6 separate regions of the Homo sapiens genome follow, and regions 2, 3, 4, 5 and 6 are each linked to region 1. Evidence: fine-mapped QTL for protein levels in blood plasma. Region 1 holds a variant in brackets. A gene starts in each other region. All regions are shown on their forward strands. Region 1 overlaps HABP2 (hyaluronan binding protein 2). Region 2 holds the start of RBFOX3 (RNA binding fox-1 homolog 3). Region 3 holds the start of PSIP1 (PC4 and SRSF1 interacting protein 1). Region 4 holds the start of TCOF1 (treacle ribosome biogenesis factor 1). Region 5 holds the start of ZBTB17 (zinc finger and BTB domain containing 17). Region 6 holds the start of IRAG2 (inositol 1,4,5-triphosphate receptor associated 2).

Evidence for each region. PIP is the chance, under the fine-mapping model, that this variant and not a neighbour inherited with it causes the effect. Protein levels are from antibody-based Olink assays in UK Biobank. Linkage for the fine-mapping came from a reference panel and not from the study's own genotypes, which makes the PIPs less certain.
Region 2: RBFOX3 starts here. The variant in region 1 is fine-mapped to the plasma level of the RBFOX3 protein (UK Biobank, PIP above 0.99).
Region 3: PSIP1 starts here. The variant in region 1 is fine-mapped to the plasma level of the PSIP1 protein (UK Biobank, PIP above 0.99).
Region 4: it holds the start of TCOF1, and the variant in region 1 is fine-mapped to the plasma level of the TCOF1 protein (UK Biobank, PIP above 0.99).
Region 5: ZBTB17 starts here. The variant in region 1 is fine-mapped to the plasma level of the ZBTB17 protein (UK Biobank, PIP above 0.99).
Region 6: it holds the start of IRAG2, and the variant in region 1 is fine-mapped to the plasma level of the IRAG2 protein (UK Biobank, PIP above 0.99).

Annotation. Positions count from the first base shown.
Region 1 is chr10:113,585,807-113,589,891 of GRCh38, forward strand. It overlaps HABP2 (hyaluronan binding protein 2), which reads left to right. Exons shown (of 13, transcript NM_004132.5): 12 at 1-132; 13 at 2,399-3,796. The coding sequence ends at 2,563. NRAP (nebulin related anchoring protein) reads right to left here. Exons shown (of 42, transcript NM_198060.4): 41 at 3,860-3,991; 42 at 2,908-3,273. The coding sequence ends at 3,169. Among named protein-coding and RNA genes, the nearest start is that of HABP2, 35 kb to the left of the region's middle. The variant G/A (reference allele first, on the strand shown) is at 2,481.
Region 2 is chr17:79,609,179-79,613,263 of GRCh38, forward strand. RBFOX3 (RNA binding fox-1 homolog 3) reads right to left here and starts at 1,873. Exons shown (of 15, transcript NM_001350451.2): 1 at 1,648-1,873.
Region 3 is chr9:15,509,219-15,513,303 of GRCh38, forward strand. PSIP1 (PC4 and SRSF1 interacting protein 1) reads right to left here and starts at 1,752. Exons shown (of 16, transcript NM_033222.5): 1 at 1,599-1,752; 2 at 899-1,111. The coding sequence starts at 970. RefSeq lists enhancers at 865-1,818, 1,819-2,771, 3,424-4,042 and silencers at 878-1,077, 1,178-1,227, 1,358-1,417, 1,428-1,637, 1,658-1,737.
Region 4 is chr5:150,355,167-150,359,251 of GRCh38, forward strand. TCOF1 (treacle ribosome biogenesis factor 1) reads left to right here and starts at 2,531. Exons shown (of 27, transcript NM_001371623.1): 1 at 2,531-2,688. The coding sequence starts at 2,581. LOC105378226 (a long non-coding RNA gene) reads right to left here and starts at 2,254. Exons shown (of 4, transcript XR_944407.3): 1 at 1,340-2,254; 2 at 402-504. RefSeq lists an enhancer at 1,549-1,718 and silencers at 2,319-2,658, 2,739-2,958.
Region 5 is chr1:15,974,326-15,978,410 of GRCh38, forward strand. It overlaps ZBTB17 (zinc finger and BTB domain containing 17), which reads right to left and starts at 1,776. Exons shown (of 16, transcript NM_003443.3): 1 at 1,658-1,776. RefSeq lists enhancers at 640-749, 1,641-2,140 and silencers at 1,170-1,499, 1,540-1,639.
Region 6 is chr12:25,050,427-25,054,511 of GRCh38, forward strand. It overlaps IRAG2 (inositol 1,4,5-triphosphate receptor associated 2), which reads left to right and starts at 2,280. Exons shown (of 22, transcript NM_001366544.2): 1 at 2,280-2,530. RefSeq lists enhancers at 1,635-1,744, 1,785-2,154.

The DNA.
Region 1 (4,085 bases):
CAGCTCCTGGATGCCAAAGTCAAGCTGATTGCCAACACTTTGTGCAACTCCCGCCAACTCTATGACCACATGATTGATGACAGTATGATCTGTGCAGGAAATCTTCAGAAACCTGGGCAAGACACCTGCCAGGTCAGAGACTCCAAGTGGTGCTTGTGGTAGGAGAGGCTAGCAGGATGTTTCACTAGGCAGAGGACCCTTAGAGCCCTGGGCTGGGAGCTAGGTTCAGAGGTCCACCTGTGGTAAAGCTAAGACACAGGTGAGCTGTGTCTGCCCCCTGGCCCTCTGGTGCATCTGCATCCGCATCAACCCAGGATGACTCAGCATAATGACCACAGAGGTCACATTGCCTGCACTGTCTAATTTAACTCTCACAACACACTGGTGAAGGTGATGTCATGATCACCATTTTACAGATGCTTAGAGAAGTTATCTTGGCCTATAGCAATTGGGTGGCCAGTGGCAGGGCTGGGATTTGAACAATACAGTCTGCAGGACACCAAAGGGGCTTGTGGCCTCAGTGTAGGGCAGCCTTTCTGAGAATCCCAGTAAACAGGGAACTGTCCAGAAGACCAGTGGCTAGAAGGAGAAAGAAGAAGGCCTAGAGCTAGAGATTTCACAGTAATATTAACTCATGATTAGGACTCATGTGTGCGTGTGTGTGTGTGTGGGGGGGGGGGGGGTGTTTTAGCCCTAGAAAACTAAGTATATCTGTAGCCTAGGGCCTTTCAGAACTCCAAGTTGCTGAGGCTTGTGACTCAGAGACACTGTTGCAGAGAGAGAAGGTGGTGGCTCCATCAACCAATGCTAAAGTGACTTCAGGCCCTGCCCCAAGTCAAAGCCCATTCCCCATAGTCCCTTTATCTGTAGGGATCACATCACACAGGGTCCTTTCTAGAATCCCAGGAACACCTCCATTTAGAATTTTCTGACTGTTGTCCCCATAAGCCTTCTAAATGTCCTGGAAAACAGCATGCCAACATTCAAATCCCAACTCCTTCAGGGAGCCTCCCCGTACAAAGGAACCCACAATGATTTGCTGGCCTTGAACTCACTTTGGGATGGGACATCAAGGTTCCTCTCTCCAGGGTTTGTGGCTCTCCTGTGACTATCTGTCTCTTCCCAGTGAGCCAAGGATGTTCACCTACTCAGAGGAGGGGCAGATGGGTGCAATTTGCCCTAAACTCCTTCCCAGAAGATGGTTAAGAAAACAGCTCATTCAGGCTGGGCATGCGTGGTGGCTCAAGCCTGTAATCCCAGCACTTTGGGAGGCTGAGGCGGGCAGATCACCTGAGGTCAGGAGTTCAAGATCAGCCTAGCCAACATGGTGAAACCCTGTCTCTACTAAAAGAAAAATACAAAAATTAGGTGGACATGGTGGCACATGCCTGTAGTCCCAGCTACTGGGGCTGAGGCAGGAGAATCGCTTGGACGTGGGAAACGGAGGTTGCAGTGAGCCAAGAGGGTGCCACTGCACTCCAGCCTGGGCAACAAAGCGAGACCCTGTCTCAAAAAAACAAAAACAAACAAACAAAAAAAAACCTCATTCAATTCCCTAGATAATTGAAGGCTTTCACTTGCAGGCTTTGGAAACAAATAGTTGTGAATTGAAACCTGTTTCTGTCTCTTACTGTATGGCTTTTATCAGTGATGAAAGCAATTCTTCAATCTCAGATGCCTAAACTATAAAATGGAAATCTATCTATAAGATCACAAGGTCGTGGCTAAGTTTAAAATAGAGAATTCATTTTTTAAAAACCTGTCAGTTGTAGTGTTTAAGCAGTATTAAGTTTTTGAGAGCTATCACCCTCAATGTCTTCTTCTCCTCACCATCATCATCCTCGCCACCTTCCGTGAGGGTTTAATATGAACCAGGCACTGTTCTATATACTTTACAAACAATCTTCACAAGAACCCTGGGGGATGGGGATCTATTGCTATCTATGGTTTACAGTGTGAGAAACTGAGGCCTAAGGTCACATGCCTGGCAGGTGGTAGGGCCTGGCTTAAAACCCAGGAGATCTAACCCCATAGACCATGCTGAGCACCTAGGCCACGCTGCCTTGGAGTCCCCAACCTCCTCCCCTATGTGTGCTGAGGGCCCCCGAGAACTCACAGTCATAACATCTGCATCACTGAGAGTTGGGAAGTGCAGCTGTGCGGCTCCTCTGTTAAGCCCGCGTGGACTCAGGGACGGAGGACACTGTTATCTTCTCTCCCTTAGAGTCTTGTATCATGTGAGATGTGGGGAGAGCCTTGTCACTGCTTTCCAGAGAAGCCCACGGAGGCTGGCAAGGGACTCCACCCCATCCCTCCCTGACACCCCCTGGAGAGAGGTGGGGGCATCTCCAGATGTCTCTGGTTCACGAGGATGAGCTTATGCCTCTGTTTCCCTTAGGGTGACTCTGGAGGCCCCCTGACCTGTGAGAAGGACGGCACCTACTACGTCTATGGGATAGTGAGCTGGGGCCTGGAGTGTG[G/A]GAAGAGGCCAGGGGTCTACACCCAAGTTACCAAATTCCTGAATTGGATCAAAGCCACCATCAAAAGTGAAAGTGGCTTCTAAGGTACTGTCTTCTGGACCTCAGAGCCCACTCTCCTTGGCACCCTGACACCGGGAGGCCTCATGGCCAACAATGGACACCTCCAGAGCCTCCAGGGGACCACACAGTAGACTATCCCTACTCTAAGCAGAGACAACTGCCACCCAGCCTGGGCCTTCCCAGACCAGCATTTGCACAATATCACCAGGCTTCTTCTGCCTCCCTTGGTAACCCAAGGAATGATGGAATCAACACAACATAGTATGTTTGCTTTCCTTACCCAATTGTACCTTCTAGAAAATCAGTGTTCACAGAGACTGCCTCCACCACAGGCATCCTGCAAATGCAGACTCCAGAATCCCCAGCATCAGCGGGAACCACCATCACATCTTTATTCCTCAGCCCAGACACTCGAGGCACTCAACAGAATCAGCCATCCACGTCTAGGTATCAGAGAGGACCACAAATACAACATTCTCCATCTGCTTTCAGAGTTATTATTTTAATAAAGGAAGATCTGGGATGGGCTGGTGGGCCATTCCAGCTTGCCGAAATCAAAGCCATCTGAAGCCTGTCTCTGGTGAACAAACTTCCTCTCTGGCCTCTCAGGAATCAGGGTGGACATGGCTCACAACAGCAGGGCCTTCTTCTTTTTGACGTGCAGAATCTCAGTGGCATCTGGGTTCACCTCCCCACTCTGATGATCTCCAGCCTCCACTGCTTCTGCCCCCCGCTGCTGAAATCAAACATACCCCAAGTTAAAATGAAGCTCCCCCACCCCCACTCCCGGCCCCGGTTCCCACAGGACACGCTAAGAAGCACAGGGAGCATTTAACAGGCTCACCCTCCCTTTCCTTTTCCCCTCTTCTACCCTCCCCAAGAAAAAGGGCCTTCAAGGCAGGAATGAGAAAGCAAAGCCAATCTCTCATTTAGACCTGGCTTCTTTCTTCTGAACAAAGTAGGGTTCAAAATGCAGACTGTCATATCCAGCGAGTCCCTGACCCTTTCTGCGAATGTAACGAGCAAGCAGTCAGCACAGCCTGGGCTGCCCTGGCCCGGGATTGATGTAGCCCCGGTAGGTTTGCCTCTGCAGAACTAATGGCTGTGACTTCAGAGAAAGCCCTGCAGGAAGTTTAACCTGCGTGTCATCTGCCTGGTCATCTCAGACCCATGAAATTAGGCGCCTTGTTTGAGCTGCGTTTCACACTTCTTTAGAGCTAGCTGACCTTTGGCCAAAAATAAACTTTGAAAAGAAACAATGAGTTTGTCTTTCCCCATGGCCTTGCAAGCCAGGGGTGGCTTTGCAGCTTGCTACTCACGTAAGCTCCCTGGAGACCCAGGCCCCTTGCGTTGGCCAGTTCCGCAGCCCGCCGAGCCATTTCCACTTTGTAGGAGCCAGGAGGGGTCCAGCCAACACCTCTGGTCAGGTTCAAGTCTGATTTATACTTGACCTTGAGGGTAAGAGGGAAGCAAGAGGAATATGTCAGCAGGGTTTGGAGCGGTTTGACCATTAAGTAAAGAAGATTAAAAAGGCAGCCACAGTAT
Region 2 (4,085 bases), not on the chromosome of region 1:
ATGTTTATACTTTTTTTTTCCATTATGTTTTGCAGACCAGTAAAACCGAAGCCGGCTTCCGGCTGAAAGACCTCATTACGGGCGACCCCACTCCATTAGCCTCCTACCTGCTCCACGCTAAGTGCCCGGGGCGCCCGGGTGCATGCCCAAGGCGTCCCCGAGTCCAACCTGCGTTTGGAGCAGGAAATTAGCAACCTGCGCGCCCGAGAAGCGACTTCACCACCAGCTGGGGCAGGAAGGGGGACTTAAACCCAGGGATGGATCCCTTGGGTCTCTGTCCTTAGCCTCCACCGTGGGGTGTCTCGCGCGTCGGGACTAGCGGCTCCGCGGGACTCCTTTTTAAAAGTGATCATTAAATAAATCAGGTACCTCGCCAAAGCTGGAACGGAAAGGGGAGGGGGAGGCAGCTCTGTTGTCCAGGAGTTTCTCCCCACCTCGCTGGGCCCCCGCCCCCACCAGTGGACTCCGGGAACATCCCACCCCCACCCTACGTGATACCAGGGATCCCAGGGCCGCTTGGGGACCCGACAGGTTCCCAATGCCCCTCCACGCGGGGCGCCGCGTCTCGGTCCCCGCACCGACACTGCAGGGCTGCGCGCCAGGGGAGGCTCCGCGTCCCGGGGAGGGAGGCTGCGACCCCCAGCACCAAAATGACCACTGGCCTCGCGCCACCCCGAGACGCCACAGAAGACCACCTTCCCGAGCGTGCGAGCCCAACACGCCCCGGGCGAGCCCCACCACCGCCCGGGGCCACCAGGGCAGAAAGTTTGGGCCAGGGGCGTGCCCGGCTTTCCCAGCCCGGCCGCGCTGCTCGAGGCCCTGGGGGTGGCCGAGGCTTCAGAGAGGCAGCCTCTGCTCCCGTTCCAGCCTTCCTATCGTGCTTGGGGACTCGGCCCGGAGCGCCCCCAGCCCGCCCCCTGTAGGGCCCTGCGCGCCGCTCGCCCCTCGCTGCTCGGCCCCCGCGCACACCGCGGTGCTGCGGGCCCCGCTCCTATTTGGGGAGCTGTGGCAGCCCCTTCCTCCCCACAACTCCTTTGGGTCATCAACCTCTCAGCGACCCTCCTTTCAGAGGACCCCGGCAGGGCTCTCTCCGGGCCTGGGTGCCGCGACAGACGCACGTTGCACCACCGCCGGGTCGCCAGCCTCTCTCCCACCCGCGCGGGCTCCGGCTGCCTGCTCGGACGCGCCCCGCGGGGCCGGGATCTCCGCGCGCCTCTGCCTCCCCCCGCCGGGGAGTTCCCCGCGCCGGGCATTGTGCCGCCGCCGCCGCCGCCACAGCCACCACCACCGCCACCGCCACCGCCACTGCCACCGCCACGCAGCGCGCGGGACTCCCTGGCGTCTCCATGGAGCCCGACCCCCGGGCCTTCCCATTCACAAAATCGCCCCTCTGGCCCACGGCCGGACAGAGCGTCCAGACCCCAGCCCCGGAGGGACCCAGGGACCCCGACCCCGCGCAGGGACCCCTGACCCCGAGGGCGCCACCCCACCCCACGCGCCCTCGGGTCAGCCCCGGCCGCGCTCAGCAGCCCGCCTCCCACTGCGGGGTCCCATGCGCCCCTCCGCGGCCATGTCCCCCTCCCCCAGCTCAGCCCGATGGGAATGACCGCCGCAGAGCGAGGCGGGCGACGAGGCCAGGCTACTCACGGGCTCAGCGCTCCCCGCGGCAGGTGACTGGGGGCCGGCGGCCATGCCCCGGCTGCATCCCGGCCGCCGAGCGGGCAGCGGCGTCCTGGGGCCGCACAGGCACCGGCGAGCCAGCGGCAAGGGGCGCGCGAGGCCGGGCTCGGGCGGCAGCTGTGGCAGCTGCTTCTCCTCCGACCACGCGAGCTGCTGGGGCCCGGCTGGGGCCGCTGTCCGAGGAGGTTCTGCTGGCTTCGGAGCAGCCCCGCGCTCGCTCTTCCCTCGCCTCCTCTCTCTCTCTCTCTCCTCCCTCCTCTCTCCGCCCTCCTTCTCTCTCTCTCTCTCTCTCTCTCTCTCTCTCTCTCTCTCTCTCCGCCCTCCTTCTCTCTCTCTCTCTCTCTCTCTCTCTCTCGTTCCTCTGGCTCGTTCGGCTGGAGCGAGGCGGCAGCAGGAGCACGCGGCGGCGGCGCGGGCGGCGGTGGCAGCTCGAGCGGAGCGCGCAGCGCGCGGCATGGGAGGGGGCTCTGGCTGTCGCGCGGCCGGGGAGGGCGGCGGAGCGGGGAGAGCCATGACCGGGTGGGCTTCGGCGGTCAGCACCCTGCAGCCTTCAGCGCCAACTCCTCGGGGCAGGGGCACAGAAGAGGTGGGGTACACACGGAAGATCCCAGAACCCAGTGCTGCCCTGGTCCCTTCAAGGGCAGCCCCAAGCCCGCTGCCCCTCCCCACCTCCAAGCTATCTTGGGGGCGGATCAACCCAGGTGACCCTTAACAGGACCCCTGCCCTTGTGCCTCGCTGTCCCTGGGGGCCATTTTTCTTTGCCAGGCCCAGGGATCCCCAGCAATGGGACGTGGTCACCAAGCATCAGGGACGAATGCCACCCCACCCCGCATGCCATGCCATGCCTTTGAGTTGCCCACATACCCCAAACCCCCTCACTAGGCCCAGGTGCCCTGACTTCCTGGAGGACCACTGGAAAGGAAGGGATCGGGCCCACTCCGTGCTGTTAGTCCAGATTGGCCAACCCAACCCATTTAAACATTTCCACCTGTGCCTGGCTGGAGAGGAAGGACTGTGGGAGGTCAGCTTAGGATTTCCCTAAAATCAAAAGATCAGGTAGCTCCTGTCCCCAGTCCCAGCCTCCCCCAGCATCTAGAGTAAGGGGCCTGGTGTGAGTTCTGGGAGGGTCTCTATCCTTGGTGCAGAGGGAGCAGGAGAGCAGAGGCTGAGGACACAGTGGAGTGGGGACCCTCTGGAAAGGCAGGAGAGATCTATTGCTGGGGTCAGCCCACCACTGGCACACAACACCAGAAGTGGGCAAGAAGGTCTGGACGGTCCCAAACAGGTTTAGGCAGGAGGCTGAGTAATCATTTCCAAAACAAAAGACATTCTGGTGCAGCAACCAGGCTGGAGAAACGAGCCTGCACCATCGAAGGACATTTCCAAATTACACACAAACAGATCCAAACCCGTCCCCATGTCACTTTTGCTCCTGAAGGCTGCTCCTGGAACAATTAGCCTCCTCCTCGCACCTGACTGTCCTGCTTTTCTGTGTGAGGTGAAAAGCACATCATGGAATCTGGGGTTTGGTAGGGGCCTGGAAGACCCAGAGGCCAGGAAGAGGGGAGTATGGATTTGGAGCTTCTCGGTAGTAGGGGCTCTGGGCTGCTGGCTGCCCCCCCTGCAGGGCAGCAGAGACGGTGGCCAAGACAGTGGCCGCTGCCCACTTATGAGCGTCATGCTTTTAATTTCTGGCCCTCCAGCCCGTCTGGGTCATTGATCTGTCTTGGCCGGTGGGAATCGTGTTATACAATTCCAAGCATACAGCTAAACAGCCCCACAGCTAACCACCAGATAAATGCCGTGTCTACGAGCAAGGCAGCCGCCTGGTTGACTGAACTTTCCCCTGCCACCGGATTTGAAATGGCGCATTCCAGCTCTAAAGCCCTAATTGGGCCTCTTGGTTCTCTGCTGTCAGATGGTCCAGGCTTTCGTGGCCTCCAACTCCCGGCTGGGCCCAGCCACTGCCTGGCAGGCACCTGTCTCCCTGCAGGCAGGGCTCTTGCCTCGCTGTGCCGGCAGTGCCCCCTGTCGGTCCCGCTTGTCCCTTGCCCACATTTCTTCTCCCTGGGGAGCCTTTTCCTCTCTGGTCCAGACCCTACTGCCCTTTGGAGCCTCCTCGCAGAAACCTCTCGAAGAGTGGGATTCGAGCCCATCTCCGTCTCCCTTCAGCTCCCCATGCGAGTTCTGCATGTGCCTGTGAAGTGGGGACACATTGACCTGGCAGAGCTGTGTGCCCGAGTGGAAGAGGGGTCCCTGCAAAGCATAGGGCCCGGTAAATCATTCCTTGGGGACGTTCTGGAAGAGCTCTCTGAAGACAGCACCAAATCTTGTTCCAAGTTCCACCAGTCCCAGCCCAGGACTCAGGACACGGTGGGCCTGCTCAGACGCCCGGGTGGTAAAC
Region 3 (4,085 bases), not on the chromosome of region 1:
TTCAGAACCCCATGTAAGTATATTTTTAAAGGATCTTGAGTTTACCTAATCTAATTGATTGCAACATATCTTAGGTCCTATCTATCTCTGTTTGAGAGCCTGGGTACCACCATAAACAAAAAGAACCCTTTTTCTAAAAATGGAGCGTAGATCTTTAAACAGTCTCAATTCCTCAATGTCACAAAACATCCTGGGTCCTTAATCATTTCTCTGTACCACTAGATGTGAACTGAGGAATCTGGTCCACACCTCCTTTTTGCCTATTGGAAACAAAAAGGTAAAACAACTTCTTCAAGGTCATAAACATCTCAAATAAAAAAGGAGAAATGAATTTTCTGGCCCTTCCTCGGTACTAAACTACTGTAATACTTTCAAGAATATCCAGTCCTGAATCTGTATTAAACAAGCAAATCCAGAAGGCCTCATCAAGTACAAGGTATTTTTTTTAAAACCCTGTAAATCCAATTTAATCACATACGCACTTCTCTGACATCCAAGTGTTTGTGTGTAATCTGCACAAATTCCATTGATATTTTGTACTTGATCCAAAACTATGGAAATGTCAATGTTTCACTAATTTTTAAACAAAAATTCACTCTTCATTATTTCACCTACAATGGAATATTAACTAGCAACGCATTTAAATATTTCCTAGGAAGAAAATCTGTCCAAGTCTGCCAATAAACCATAGGGAAATACACAGGTATGTAGAAACGTCTGGATTTTCATAATTACACGGGAGATTATTGGGCAAAAAACTAAAATGAAAGGTCAGGTTACAAATGAGACTAAAGCGAGGGAGAGAAAGGACAGAAGAAAAAATAAAGAGACACGGTGGGCAGCAGGCCTCTGGAGAGGAGGGTAGCACTGCTAAGCGCGAGGGCTACAAATCACTTACTCGAGCTGGCCAATGGGGATAACCTTTCATCTTGGCGAAGATGAGGTCTCCAGGTTTGAAATCGCGAGTCATGTTTCGGGGGCGAGACCGGGGGTCCGAAGCCCGGGAGGCGGCGAGGAGATGCGGCGGCGCGGGGATGCGGGCGGCGGACGCGGGCCCAGCTACCGGGCCCGCGGGCGGGGGAGGATGCCTCGGGGCGTCCCGACGCGCCTGCTAGGGAGAGCACCGAGGGCGGTTAAAGCGAAGAACCCCGAAGGGAGGGGCCGCAAGGGGAGGGGGAGGGGAACCGGCGGGTGGGGGTGGGAGAGCGAGGGGACGGCCGCCTCCCGCTCCTCCCCCGCCAGTGCGCTGCCTCCGCGCTGGAGCAGGTCCTCCACCCCGCCACCGAAGAGACGCCACCACCTGAAGCAGGGATGCTGCCCGGCCAGAAATCGCCCGTCTGCCCGCCCCATCTTTCTCCGGGCTTTTTCCACCGAGCTTAAGCCCCAAAAGGGAGGGGGTGCATGGGAGAGAAAAAGGCAGGGATTCCGAGAAGCGAGCGGCCCCCTTCCGCCCACGCAAGGCCTCCCCCGCAACCTGCTGCCCAGCGGCTGCAGCCTCGGCCCCCTCGGCTCCCGGGCGGGCCGCGTCCACTTCCCCGCTACAGCCAGGAGCGACGCCACCGAGGGGGGGGCGGGGCGAGTCCCCGTCGCCCGCTCACCTGCCGGGGCCGCGGGCGCCGACGCTGCGGTTGCTGGCCGGTCGCCTCTACCCGCGTCCACGCAAGCCACCTGCGCCACCAGCTGCCGCAGAGGCGTCTCAACGGCTCGGAATCGCAACCGCGCCGCCGCTGCCGCCGCCGTAGCTGCGCTGCTCCCGCGCGGCTCCCGCTCGGCGCCCGCTAGCACTGGGGCGCGACCAACTGTTTACCGAGAGAGGGGGGATGTTGCAGCACCCGGCGAAGCTGTGTGGCTCCGAAGCGGATTTTCTGGAAACCCTACGTCCCCAAGTTCGCTTTCATGTAACAGGTGCATGCAGATGGAGAGGAAGACGCAAGCGAAGAAGAAAGGACTGGGCGAAAATAGCTCGGCCTGCCGCAAGTTCCCCCTGCGGTTTGCGGAGTGGTCGGGCCCGGCCCGCCCCTGCTGGCTTCTCTGCGTGTGTGTATTTGTATGTGTACTGTATGTAAAAGGCGGGGAGGGAGGAAATGATTGTTGTGGACGCGGTTTTGGGGGCGGGTATCCGGGCCTCTCTCCCTTGGCTGCGTGTTAGGGAGAAAGTGGCAGTAAAGATTCATGTTCTTGTATCGTTTCCAGGGTGGGGAGGTTTGAATGCTGCTTTTGCGCGGTTTGCATCATCCAAAAAAGAGGAGCTGTACGAAAACCCTAAGATGAAATTGGAGCATGCGGCGGTTGCAGGGTGTGCTGCATCTAGGCCTCTTGCACCTCGCTGAATGGGCCTCGTAGTCTCCTTTTCCTTGAAATTGTAGTATGAGAGAGCCCTATTTCATTTCTTTTGCATTTGCATCACCAAGAACTATTAAGAAAAATGCAACCCTACTGAATGCAAAATGCGAAGGGTAGAAAACAATGACAGGAAAACAGAAACCTTTTAGATAGGATGTGAGTTTGGGCCCTAACTAAATTTTAGCTGCATCTAAATTTTATTTCCCTAGTAGAATAGGAGCTGGTAGGTGGTACAATGTGTAAGTGTTACTAAACCTCAAATATTTTCTCTCTTAAAATGCTCTTCAAGGGATTTTAAAGGTTAATTTTTTGATCCTTTAGAGAGGCTGAAAATATTTTTAAAAAGAATGTTAAGACATATAAAAATAAGAATAATAAGACATATATTAGCACCTAGATAATACTGTTTTAAATACGGGACTCAACTGGAAATGAATTAGGAAATTTTTTTTGAATTGGTAAAAATTGAGAATTTTTTGAAAGCGATACAGCATGTCTTTAAAAAGGAATGAAAGAAGACAGTCCCAAAGTAAAATGTCCTGTAAGGAGTTTCGAGAAACTAAGTATACCTGGGCAATATGCAGAGAGTTCCAAGTGGAGCAAAAAGAGAAATTGGCAGAGGAGAAGGAAGGGTTGGTGAAATGTCTTGAAGCTTCTCATTCTGAATATGAATTTAATGTGTGTAGTAGGAAGCTACTATAGGTTGCTCAGCAAGAAGGGGGTAAAAATGATTATTTAACCAGTTCTTGATGTTTCAAGGTAGATGTTAGTAGAAAGAGGCTGGGGGTAACTGGAGTACTCATGAAATGACGCATTTCTCAGTGAGAATGGTGACTAAGAAAAGGGAAGGAAGAGCACAACTAAGTAATTACACAAAGGAATGATTGTCAGGTGTTGGCTATAAATTATGCATAGGAAAAGGTGGAAAAAGATGTATTGAAGAAAAGCTCAAGATACAGAGTAAGAGAGACCAAAGCAGCATCCAGCAATCATTTTTTTGTGTGTATGCACTTTATTTGTTCTAAACCCTGTAAGGCCTTGCTACTTCAAGTGTGGTCCAAGGCCCAGCAGCAAGGGCTTTACCTGGGAGCTCAGGTAAAGCTCAGACCTTCCCCAGGCCTTCTAAATCATAATCTGCGTTTTAACAGGATCCCTAGGTGATTCTTACGCATATTCAAGTTTGAGAAACTGCTTTAGAGGATACCTCAGACTGTAAAAACTTCAAACTAAGAAAAACAGATATATAACAAGTTATAATTAACGTTAAAGATAACTTTTTATTAGTACTAATGGTAGGATTAACAGGTAAAGAGGGGGTAGTTAGTGTTAGAGGGGACCTCAGAAAAGAAATAAAAAAGGGAAAATGGAAAAGCATTGATGTTTTACTATTAGTATTTTCTGTTGTTTTTGTTGTTTTAAAAAAAGGAAGTACCATACTTAGCTCCTGCTGCCTTTAAGTTTTGTCCGCTTCAACCTGTGGTAGTTTGTGAACAACAGGAGATACCCTTTAAACAATAAAGGCAAAACAGGTGGTGGTTTAAGCTTCCAGAGAACAAAAGCCCAGGATCCCTGGGAGCAACAGTTCTGAATCTGCGAGGAAAGGGGGGGGGAGGGGAGGGGAGGGGAGGGCAGGGAACGGGGAAGGAAAGCTGGGCACATCCTAGCCACTTGGGAGAGCTTTTCTGTGCTCTTTTCCAGCTATGCTTGGTGCAGCCCTCTCCCATAGTCAGCCTTCTTAGTGG
Region 4 (4,085 bases), not on the chromosome of region 1:
TAAGGCATTTCAAGCTCAAGATGTCTAACATAGAATATATACTTTCACCTCTCTGTCCACATCCTCCTCTCCTCAATCAAACCACCCCCCTGTCTCAGTCCTCTTCTAGTTTTTTCTATCTCAGTGAAAAATACTGCCTACTTGTTTGCACAGAAACCTCAAGGTCCATTCTGACATTGCCTTTTCCTTCCCCTCCCATTCCAACACACCTCTGTGAAAACTTTAGTTCCTGATTAACTCTGGGAACCTTCCACTCTCTTCAACTCCACTGCCACCAGCACCCTCCCCGCTGCCCCCGCCACCTACCACCCGCCCCCCCCCCCCACATACACTGTCTTCTCCCTGGATGCCTGCCTGCACTCCTAACCCTGACTTGTCTTCCCACATCTACTCATACCCACCAGACACACTCCACTCTCCACTGGGCAGGCACACAGGTCACAGTAAAATTCAGATTTCATCCTGTACCTCTTGGGCTTACACCGTCAGTGGCTTCCAATGGCTCTTAGGATGGAGGAAAAAAAACCCTGATGTGGCCAATCCTTCACATGGAGTCTGCCCTCTGCCCACCTTCTACACTCCCCAGTCCCCCTGCTCTCCCTCCGGACTATGCTACAAAGGCCTTTTTGTGTCTATTCTCTCAGCTGTACCTTCTGCCCTAGGCCCTTTGCACAGGTTCTTCCCTCTGCTCAGGTTTCTTCTCTCTGACTCTCCCTTACACACAGTTCTGGTTTCCTCATAACCATTAATTTCTCAGGGAATCCTTCCCTAACTCCCAAGAAAAAAATAGATCCCTCCTTCCTGTTATATGCTTTCACAATAATAGCACACACGCACACAGAGAGCGCTATTGTTCAGAGCTCCTCTAAGCATTTCTGCTGAGAATTCATTTACTCCTTATGACAACCCAGTGAGGTAGAAATTATAATTATCTCCATTGTACAGATAAAGAAACTGAGTCACAGTGACTTGCCCAAAGTCACCTAGTTAATGAGGCAAAGCCAGAATTTGAACCCAGGCAGTGTGACTCCAGTGCAGCTTTTAAACACTATATTATTACATAAGAAAACACTATCCTTTTCCTTCCTGCACTTACCCGCTGTTTGTAACACTGTATTGTATGACTATTAGTTTAGTATGTGTCTCCTCCGTTAGACTGTAAGCTCTATTGGAGTAGAGACAATTCCATCACTAGACTGTAAGCTCTATAGGAGTAGAGACTATTCCATCCCCAATGGTAGGTACTCAATAAATATTTGCTCAAGAAAATGGGAAATGTTGAATGTGTACAGACACATAACATTTTCCATTCAAGTTCAAGACAAAGATAACCACATACCTGGACCTCCTAGGGTTAGGGACTCCTGCGCCCGTAAGAAACATGCTGCCCTCAGATTCTCAATGGGTCGGTGAAGTTAAGAACAGCTCACTCTAACATTCTCCAGCCTACCTCACCTTTTCCCTGCCATCCTTCCCTCAACAACTACAACAGCCTCACATTTAGTATTAATGGTATGTGCTTTGGTTTTAGCAATCTTTTAAAAACACAAAACAGGGTCAACCTCCTCGGAAAAGCCAGTCAGAGACTATCTAATGCCCTCAGAGCAAAGTCCAAACTCTGTTGGGGGTGGGGGAGTTGTAGGCCTTGTCTACTTCTTCATCCTCATGTGCCCTCATTTGTTCCCTCTTCCCCACCTCACCCCACCCCACCTGGACAGCCCAGCAGCGCAGACTAGGGGTTCTGGGTTTAGGGTTCCCAGGCAATAGCAGGGTGTTTTCTCATGCCTAGACTCATGCAGTGCCCTCTGCCAGTCCTCTCCTTTGCACCCAGCAATTTCGGGTGTCTTTATGCCTCAGCTTAGATATCTCTCTGGGGTTCGGTGCTCCTCCTTGGGGCGCCCATAGGCTGCATCTGTCCCTGACAAGGCACACAAGATATTGAACTATAGTTGCTTGGTTACGGACAGTCGTCTCTGTGAGCTTTGAGGGCAACTGCCATGTATTATGCATCTTTTGAATCCCCCTAGCCTAGCCGGGTGCTAGCCCAAGTTAGGTGCTTATTACAGATTTGTTCAGTTAGCGAATGAATCAATGAATAAACTGGCAATTCGTGTCTGGTTCATGGGCACCAAAAACCGTGCGAAATGGATAAATGAGCAGGTAATGGCAGTACAAAGTTCGGATCTAGAGAAAGATCCAGATTAGGGAGTTCAGAGATGAGTAAAACGCAGACCCAGCCATCAGAGAATTAACAAGGAAGATAAATCTCTTCAAGAAGCCAGCCGGAAGGATTAAAAGAGAGTCGTCCAAGTCCCGGCCGGCCCCGGGGGCGGGTCCCTGTCTAGCCCCGCATGCTCCGCGCCAATGGGCGGTATTGTTGATCACGAGTCTCCGCCCCCTTCGCCTTGAGGGGCGGGGCCGGCCACTCCCGGAGAGGGGACTACGTTTCCCGGCGCGCCGCGCGGCCGGAGCGAAAGAGGAGCCGGAAGTGTGGCGCGCGAGGTCTAAGGGCGCGAGGGAAGTGGCGGGCGGGGACTAAGGCGGGGCGTGCAGGTAGCCGGCCGGCCGGGGGTCGCGGGTATGGCCGAGGCCAGGAAGCGGCGGGAGCTACTTCCCCTGATCTACCACCATCTGCTGCGGGCTGGCTATGTGCGTGCGGCGCGGGAAGTGAAGGAGCAGAGCGGCCAGGTAAGCGTTCGTGGGCCGTGTGCGAGGGCCGCGTGCAAGATGTGGAGATCAGCGGCCCGCGGCCCGCGCCCCGTCCCCAGGCGACCCGGCAGGCGCCCGGAGCCGGGTCCCGCAGTGCTCGACGGCGCGGCCAGGGGTACCGGAGGAGCCGCAATCTCTGCCTTCCCACTGCGACTTCAGTTCCCCTGGGCCTCACTTTCCTCATCCGGGCAGTGGGTTGGGCCAGAAAGTGTGCTCGCAGGGGCCGAACTTTGTAATTCCCGCTTCCCTTACCTCCACGCCCTTCCTGGTAGCGGGTATTTTAAGTTTCCTAAGTCTCCCGCCACGTGGCTAGGCTCTGCGCGGCCCCCCCTGGGGCAAGGAGGTTGCTGCGAGTCTCGGGGGTGGATTGCGACCAGCCCCTCGGGGGAGCGCCTGGAAAAGGGACCCTACAGCCTCTTAGTTGAGCTGGAACTCAGGCCTTTAGCGATTGTCTGTACTGAGACGGTCAGCTTTGGTACTCGAACTCGTGGTACAGTCATTTCTTACTTGATTAATTCAACTGTTAATCCGGTACTCAGGGTGCTTCCTGGTGTTCGAATGGTGAGCACCATCTCTCAGCCCTCCTGGAGCTTACACTCTAGTAAGGTAGACAAATCAAAGAATCACAAAAGTGACTATATGCTTAGCACCGCAATAAGTGTTAAGAATGAGAGGGATGGGCCGGGCACGGTAGCTCACGCCTGTAATCCCAGCACTTAGGGAGGCCGAGACTAGCGGATCACCTGAGGTCAGAAGTTCGAGACCAGCCTGGCCAACATGGTGAAACACCGTTTCTACTAAAAATACAAAAATTAGCTGGGCATGTTGGCGCACGCCTGTAATCCTGGCTACTCATGTGGCTGAGGCACAAGAATTGCTTGAACCCGGGAGGCAGAGGTTGCAATGAGTCAAGATCGTGCCACTGCACTCCAGCCTGGGCGATAAAGCGAGACTCTGCCTCAAAAAAAAAAGAGAGATGGATGGCAGATTGCCCTGGTCAGGAATAGCTGAGGTGTAAATGCCTTGTGGTGGGAGGGAACTTGTGTACACACTGGCCTGGAGAAAGTCCACTCTCTTGAGCCCAGGAATTTGAGGATACAGTATGAGCCATGATCATGCCACTGCACTCCAGCCTGGGCAACAGAGCAAGACACTGTCTCAAAAAAAAATTTTTTTTAAGTCCATAGCAGGCCAGGTACGGTAGCTCACGCCTGTAATCCCAGCACTTTGGGAGGCCGAGGCAGGCGGATCACTTGAGGCCAGGAGTTCAAAACCAGCCTGACCGACATGGTGAAACCCTGTCTCTACTAAAAATGCAAAAATTAGCCATGCATGGTGGCATGCACCTGTAGTCCCAGTTACTCGGGAGGCTGAGT
Region 5 (4,085 bases), not on the chromosome of region 1:
TTTTTTTCCTTTTTTTTTTTTTTTCTTTTAATAAAGATGGGGTCTTGCCATGTTGCCCAGGCTTGTCTCAAACTCCTGGGCTCAAATGATCATCCCACGTTGGCCTCCCAAAGTGCTAGAATTACAGAGTAAGCCACCGCACCTGGCCACAGATCTGATTCTTAAATGGCTTCCCATTAACCTAAAGTTTAAAGTCCTTAACTAGGTTTACAACGTCCCCTAAGACCAGACCACAGCTTGCTGCTGCTTTTTTTTTTTTTCTTTTTTGAGACGGAATCTCGCTCTGTCGCCCAGGCTGGAGTGCAGTGGCGCCGTTTCGGCTCACTGCAACCTCCGCCTCCTGCGTTCGAGCGATTCTCATACCTCAGCCTCCTGAGCAGCTGGGACTACAGGCGCGCGCAAGCACGACCGGCTAATTTTTGTATTTTTAGTAGAGACGGGGGTTTCACCATATTGGCCAGGCTGGTCTCGAACTCCTGACCTCAAGTGATCTGCCCGCCTGGGCCTCCCAAAGTGCTGAGATTACAAGCGTGAGACAACGAGCCCGGCCCAGTCTGCTTCTTTATTTAGCCTGATCTCTCTCTCCTCTCTCTACGAAGATGAGTTTTCTCACAAACTACACCCTTAACTGGGAATACCCGTTTTCCTGCCTCACTCCGCTGAGCTTCCCTTAGATCTTAGCTTTCTGGGGGACAGAAGCCTCCCGGGATTCCCCCTAGGCTGAGTGATGTGTCTCTACTCCGTGCTTCAGAGGAAGGAGGGCTTTCTGCCCTCGCAGCAGTATCAGAATTGCTGATTTACCTGTATGTCTCCCACATGGGTCTCTGAGCTCTGGGTGACAATGGTGATACAATTAATAACAGCAACAAACACACAGCATTTACTTTGTACCCATAAGTGTTCTAGGAGCCTCATTTCCCCTTTATTACAATCTTAGGAGGCTGATTTTATTATCATCTCTGCTTAAAGGATGAATAAACCCAGGCAGAGAGAAAAAGCCAAAAGTGCCTAAGGTCACAGCAGGGAATGGGGATTCAAACCCCGCTGCTGGGCTCCACGGTTCACACTCCTAACTCCAGGATCGAGGATCCTGGAGGATCGAGTCCGCCCGCATCACTCGCTCTAGCTTCACCATCTATCAGGTGCTGAACCACCGTCCGCAGTACGAATGAATGAATGAAATGCTTTTATACAGGGACAGCGTCGGCCTCCTCTGTCAGCTCCTCCTAGGCCCGGGCAGCCCCGCTCCCTCCCGCCCCGGCCGGCCGACAGGAGCTGCCCCGGCACTGCGCTCCCTCGCGGCCGCAGAACGCCCACCCTCGACAGCGCGCGGGGTCAAGGGGCGGTGACAGCCGTGCGGCGGGGGCGGAGATGCTACCAGCTGGGGTGTCATCCAGCCCGGGAGGTGACACGCGCCCCCTCGCCCGGGCGGTCGCCTGGCCGCCCACTCCCCGCCAGCACGCCCGGCGACGCCCCCCGCCCCGCCACCCCACAATCTCCCGCCCAGCGGTGTCCCCTCAGCCCCGGTTGGCGTCCCATTCCACTTCCCTCCCCTCCCCCACACAACCGTCACCGGCGTCCCACCGCGCCCCATCCTCCGCCGCCTCCGCCCCGGCTCCCGGGACTTCCCCGGCCCCGGGCGATTGTTGACACTCACCTGCCATGTCCCGGACCCCACCGCAGAGGGAGGTGCATCACGGCCGCGAGAAGGCCGGGGACGGCACTCCAGAGCAGACAAAGGGCGCCGCCATGTTAGAGTCGGGCGGAACCGACCTCGCAGGCTTCCCGGCTGCAACTTCCGGCGCATGCGCAGCGTCCTCGCTAGGAGAGCGCCCATAGACAGACGCATGCGCCTAGCTATCCAAAAGTTCCACCTTACAGTACTTCGGCGCTCAGAGTTGTCCTCATTGTACCCCTGCCTTGGTTTCTCTTCCAAATATAACAGTAACATCATGTGTTCAGCTCTTACTGTGTGCCAGGCACTGTGTTAAGCGCTTTACATGCATTATCTCTTTAAATCCTCACACCAATTATAAGATAGTATTATTCTCCTAATTTTAAAAAAGGGAAAACAGACTCAAAAAGTGTAAATCAATGTCCATGGTCACATATCTTGTAAGTGGTGGACCGGAGATATGAATCTACTTGTGGCTTCAAAGCTGCAGATCCCAGTTGTGTTTTTCTACCTTCTAAACCGAACATTATCCCCTTCCCTGATTGTCTTGGACGTGAATAAAGGTGTCTGAAAACAAAAGTGTCTGCAGACTTGCATGGCCCCTCCGTGGCCCCTCTTCTACCTTTTTGGTAGCTCTAGGCCACTGACTTCTCCACTTTCTCACAGTCTGAGGGCTTTCTCCTTTGTTTACTTCTAGGCCTGCATATTTTCCATAATCTATAATTTTAACAACACTCTTGCCACTACTGTAAGCTCTTTTGCCCCCTTGCCTTTTTGTCACATGGATTTGGTAAGAATACCAACGCTGTGTGAATCCAAATGCACCTTTTCTCTTTGTTAGCTCCCAAACAGCCAAGCACAGCTGAAGAAAGTATGCAGTGGGGAGACTGTTCCCTAGAGATTCATGTCCACTAGCCTTCAGTGGGATGCAACATATGCCAATCTGGCAACTCACTCCTGTCTTCACAATGGCTAGAGAAACAAAAAAGCCCAGCAGTTGACTTCACCCCTTCTTGTCTTTAGGTTTTTTTTTTTTTTTTGGAGACAGAGTCTCACTCTGTCTTCCAGGCTGGAGTGCAGTGGCGCTGTCTCGGTTCACTGCAAGCTCCGCCTCCCGGGTTCACGCCATTCTCCTGTCTCAGCCTCCAGAGTAGCTGGGACTACAGGCGCCCGCCACAACACCTGGCTAATTTTTTGTATTTTTAGTAGAGACGGGGTTTCACCATGTTAGCCAGGATGGTCTCGATCTTCTGACCTCGTGATCCACCTGCCTCAGCCTCCCAAAGTGCTGGGATTACAGGCGTGAGCCGCCGTGCCCGGCCGTCTTTCTTTTCTTTCTTTTTTTTTTTTTTAGATGGGGTCTCGCTATGTTGCCCGGCTGGACTGAAACCCCTAGGCTTAAGCATCCCATTTCAACCTCCCCAGTAGCTGAGACTACAGGCATGTGCACCCACAACTGGCTAACTTCACCCGTTCTTTTTAACTATATTTTTAATTTTTATTTCAGTAGTTTTTGGGGAACACATGGTGTTTGGTTACATGGATAAGTTCTTTAGTGATGATTTCTGTGATTTTGGGGGACCCATGACCTGAACAGTGTACATTCTACCCAAGGTGTAGTCTTTTTTTTTTTTTTTTTTTTTTTTTGAGATGGAGTCTTGCTCTGTTGCCCAGGCTGGAGTGCAGTGGCGCCATCTGGGCTCACTGCAAGTTCCGCCTCCCAGGTTCACGCCATTCTCCTGACTCAGCCTCCCGAGTAGCTGGGACTACAGGCGCCCGCCACCATGCCCGGCTAATTTTTTGTATTTTTAGTAGAGACGGGGTTTCACCGTGTTAGCCAGGATGGTCTGGATGTCCTGACCTCGTGATCCGCCCGCCTCGGCCTCCCAAAGTGCTGGGATTGCAGGCGTGAGCCACTGCGCCCAGCCAACCCAAAGTGTAGTCTTTTATCCCTCACCCCTCCCACCTTTCCCCCTGAGTTCCCAAAGTCCATTGTGTCATTCTTATGCCTTTGCGTCCTCATAGCTTAGCTCCCACCTAAAAGTGAGAGCATATGATATTTGGTTTTCCATTCCTGAGTTACTTCATTTAGAATAATGGTCTCTAGCTCCATCCATGTTGCTGCAAATGCCATTATTTCATTCCTTTTTATGGCTGAGTAGTATTCCATGTTATATATATATACCACATTTTCTTTATCCACTCGTGCATTGATGGGCATTTGAGATGGTTCTATATGTTTGCAATTGTGAACTGTGCTGCTACAAACATGCGTGTGGAAGTGTATTTTTCATATAATGACTTATTTTCCTCTCTGTAGATACCCGCTAGTGGGATTGCTGGATCTAATGGCAGATTTACTTTTAGTTCTTTAAGGAACATCCATATTGTTTTCCATAGTGGTTGTGCT
Region 6 (4,085 bases), not on the chromosome of region 1:
GCTGAGGCAGGGGAATCGCTTCAACCCGGGAGCCAAAGGTTGCAGTGAGCTGAGATCGCGCCAGTGCACTCCAGCCTGGAGACAGAGCGAGACTCCGTCTCAAAAAAAACAAACAAACAAACAAACAAAAAAAAACAGTTACAGAGTTTTCTCAAAATATTAAAAATTAAACTACCATCTGATCTAGGAACCCCACTTCTGGGTATTTATCCAAAATAATTAAAATCAGCACCTGGAAGAGCTATTTGCATTCCCATATTCACTGCGGCATTATTCTCAATAGCCAAGATTTGGAAACAACCTGAATGTCCACGGATGATTGGATAAAGAAAATTTGGTATATAAATACAAGGGAATATTATCCAACCTTTAAAAAGAAGGAAATTCTGCCACATATGACAACATAGATAAACCTGGAGGACACTATCCCAAGTAAAATAAGTGAGTCACAGAACAACAAATACTGCACGATCCCACTTCTCTGAGGTATCTAAAATAGTTAAACTAATAGAAAGAGAGAGAATAGTGGTTGCCAGGAGCTAGGGGAGGGGAAATGAGGAGTTGCTACTCAATAGGTATAAAGTTTCAGTTATGCAAGATGAAGATGTTCTAGAGATCTGCTGTACAACATTATGCCTGTAGTTAATAATACTGTATTGTACACTTAAAAATTTGTTAAGTGGGTAAATCTCCTGTTAAATGTTCCTGCCACAGTTAAAGAAAAAGAGAGAAAAAGAGAGTGAGAGAGACAACGATAAGCTATTGAAGGACGCTCAGTGGAAAGTGTGGTGATGTAGGCAGTTTTTATTTTTGCTTAGGATTTTGTTTGCTTGTTTACCAGTATGGTAAGCATTCTGTGAGACCATTCTTGCCTCTCATGTGGTCCTTCGTGTAACCAGGGCTGGATTTGTGCCAGTGTGCAGTGGCATTCTGACTAAATGTTAACGTTTGAGAGGCATGCACAAGGCCTACGGCTGACAATGTCTTCCTTGCTGTTTTGCAACTCCCGACATTTATCACCACTTTGAGTTAAGGTCCATATTCAAGTCAGATTGTTTCCAGATAATCATTGAGGTACTGGCATGTAACACACATTAAATAATCTCATCTGCTAACAGAGAGTAAGTGCATTTTTACATGTTTTAGAGATTAGAATTGGATCCAAATGAGGTGTAACGTAATGGCACCATGAGATCTGTGGTGGGGAAGGGTGATGGGGAGAAAAGCTTCAGCAAAAAGAGGACTAAAGTAGAAATATCAACCGCCAGCTTTCATCTGTGCCTGGGGGCGGTCCTTCCTGTGCTCGTGGCACGTGTTTATACTATGATTGACAACCCTTAAGGAGAAAGGCTAAGGTCATGAAACAAAGCTCTCTTTCCTTTTCTTTTCCCTCCCCCTACCTTTACCCCATTCCTTTCTTTTTCTGTAAAAGCTAGCTGTGATGTGTAAATGTTGCACCTGTCACCCTGACCTCATTGTAGAGCCATCTTCTGAGTAACTGGCAACTGGCAACTGATGCTAAGTGCTATGAATGCAGCTGGTGGGAACTGAACACACCAGTGTAAAAGATGAAACTAGAAGTCCTTATCTGTAAAGTGAGGGTGTCAGGCTAAGCGACCAATAAGCTTTGCTTAAGATTTTATATTTGTGAAGCATTTATATGTAAATACTTTCACTTTTTCCTCTGATCTCTAAGGAAGTGGTGTTAAGTTTGAGTTTGTCATAATTTCACAGGGTGACTCTTAGTTGAAATGTCACTGACAGCTTGCGGTTTGGACTTTTTTTTTTTTTTTTTTTTTTAACTCCAGTCAGAAACAACTAGAAGCCATTAAACAACTACAGGAAGATGCTGTCAACCAGGAAGGCATCCTTAGGAAGAGGCTCCAAGAAACCAGCCAACGGCTGGAGGATGTGGAGGAGCAGGTAGGGTGGCTCATGGCTACATTAGATTCAGGGGACATCTCCTCAGATGCCCTGCAAACCATGAAATAAAAATGGAGGAGGAACAACAACAACAAACAAAAAAAAAAAGCAAAGAGGAACTGCAAGTTCAGTCCCTAGCGACTAACAGTGAGCAGAGGAAGTAAAGGGGGAGTTGTAAGAGAGGCGGTATCAACAGCCTGCTGATGAAAGAGGCGACTCTGCAGAAAGAGGCAACTTGACATATCAGGACTTTAACCGCTGTAGAAATAGCTCAGGCATACCAAGCCCATGCAAACACAGAATTGCAGAAGTTCAGGAGAGGCTTATCACTTCCCTGAGAAGAAAAACACATTTTCAGTTTTGCCTGCATCATAAGAGTGAGCACTCCATTGCTTTCTTTCCTGGCCACACTGCTACAATCCAGCACTAACTATCCATGTCCAGGGTAAGGATCGAGATCGAGAAGCCCACACTGCCAGTGAAAAAGCTACGTCTTTACTGCATAAATTAGAGGAAGCAATTTCGGAACAACGGAACCTTCAAACTATAAATACTGAATTATCGAACACTTGCCAGGCACTTCAGCAGAAGACAAGGAAACTGAAGAGTGAGTAGCAAATATTCATTTATGACCCAGTTTTTGTCCACCCTCAGGCGGGGCATAGGACTACAGACATTTTTCTAGATTACAGCTAGGATATTATTCCTGAGTTTATGACAATGAAATGGTTTGAGAAGGCAATATTGTGGGGCTTTCAGAGAGGTTTGCTGAGTGGCTAGGTGCATGCATGGGTTTAACCATTAACTTCCCTTTTTGCCTTTTTATTATAAGCTGGTTTTGTCTGTGGCTGTTTTTTTCTTTTAAAATTAATTAAAACTTCTCAAAATTTCTAAAAGTAAACAAGGAGAAAAATCTAGTATGCATGGTATATTTGAACTTGCAAGTTGTTATATATTATACTCTGATTTTATTAGCTAGTTTTTTTCCTCTCATATGGTAGAAAAGGCCTTGCTCGTCTATTTTCTTTGGAAATTTTAGGGGGTTGGGCAAAATAATTATGAATTCAGTGTATATCAAAATATCAAATGTGTGAAAATTCTTTTAAAGTTTTAATGCATTCTCTACATACATCTACATACATATTTTGCATTTTAAAAATTGGAATATTTGTCATTTTTCTGTATTACCCAAAAGTATATAAACAGTTACCAGAGATTTATGTGAGAAGACAGTTGTCACATTACAGATGTCAGATTAGCTATAAAATTGTTTCATTCTAGAAACCTAATATGGTAAAAATAAACCTTACTTATTTAGCCATTTATCAGACAATTGCTTTTGTTCAGCCAGTTTCTTGTTCTAGCAGTATAAATATTCTTTTTATAGAAAGTTACTTGGTTTGAGAAATAAACATTGTTTATTTGTTAATTGTTATATAATTATAAATAATTATATATTTAATATATAAGCTTAAGGTAGGCTAGAGATGAAAAATTTCAGACTTGTGTTTGTTTTGGATTTATTGTACCCTTTCTACTATTATCTGAGAAAGCTATTTAGGAGTTTAAGAAATAGTCTAGTTTTAAAATAGCAATGGTTTGCCGGACACAGTGGCTCACCCCTGTAATCCCAGCATTTTGGGAGGCCGAGGTGGGCAGATTGCTTGAGCCCAGGAGTTTGAGACCAGCCTGGACAACATGGTGAAACCCTGTCTCTACAAAAATTACAAACAAATAAATAAATAAAACATTAAAATAGCAGTGGTTATTCAACATATTATTGTCATAATTTTTAAACCTTTATTGAATTTGCCAGTTTTCAATATTCTGATTCACTCTGTTAAGCTAGTAAGGCAGTCTTTAAATTACACAGTCTGTGTGTTATTTTACTACTGCTCAGAGGGCATTGGAGAAGGTTCCCTTGTGATTAGAACTGTTCATGTTGAGACATGAATCATAAGGCATTCCAAAGTTGGTTTAAGGTGTGTCTGCTTTAGACACTGTGCCCAGGACTATTCTTTTGCTCCAGTTTTGCCTTTTGATTAAATCAATATTATACCTGAGTTTTATAAACTACTAAGAATTTGTTCCCCTTCCTCACTGTGATTTTCTTGCAGTATTTTCTTAGAAGAGTCAACTTTAATAACTTACCCCAAAGTGCA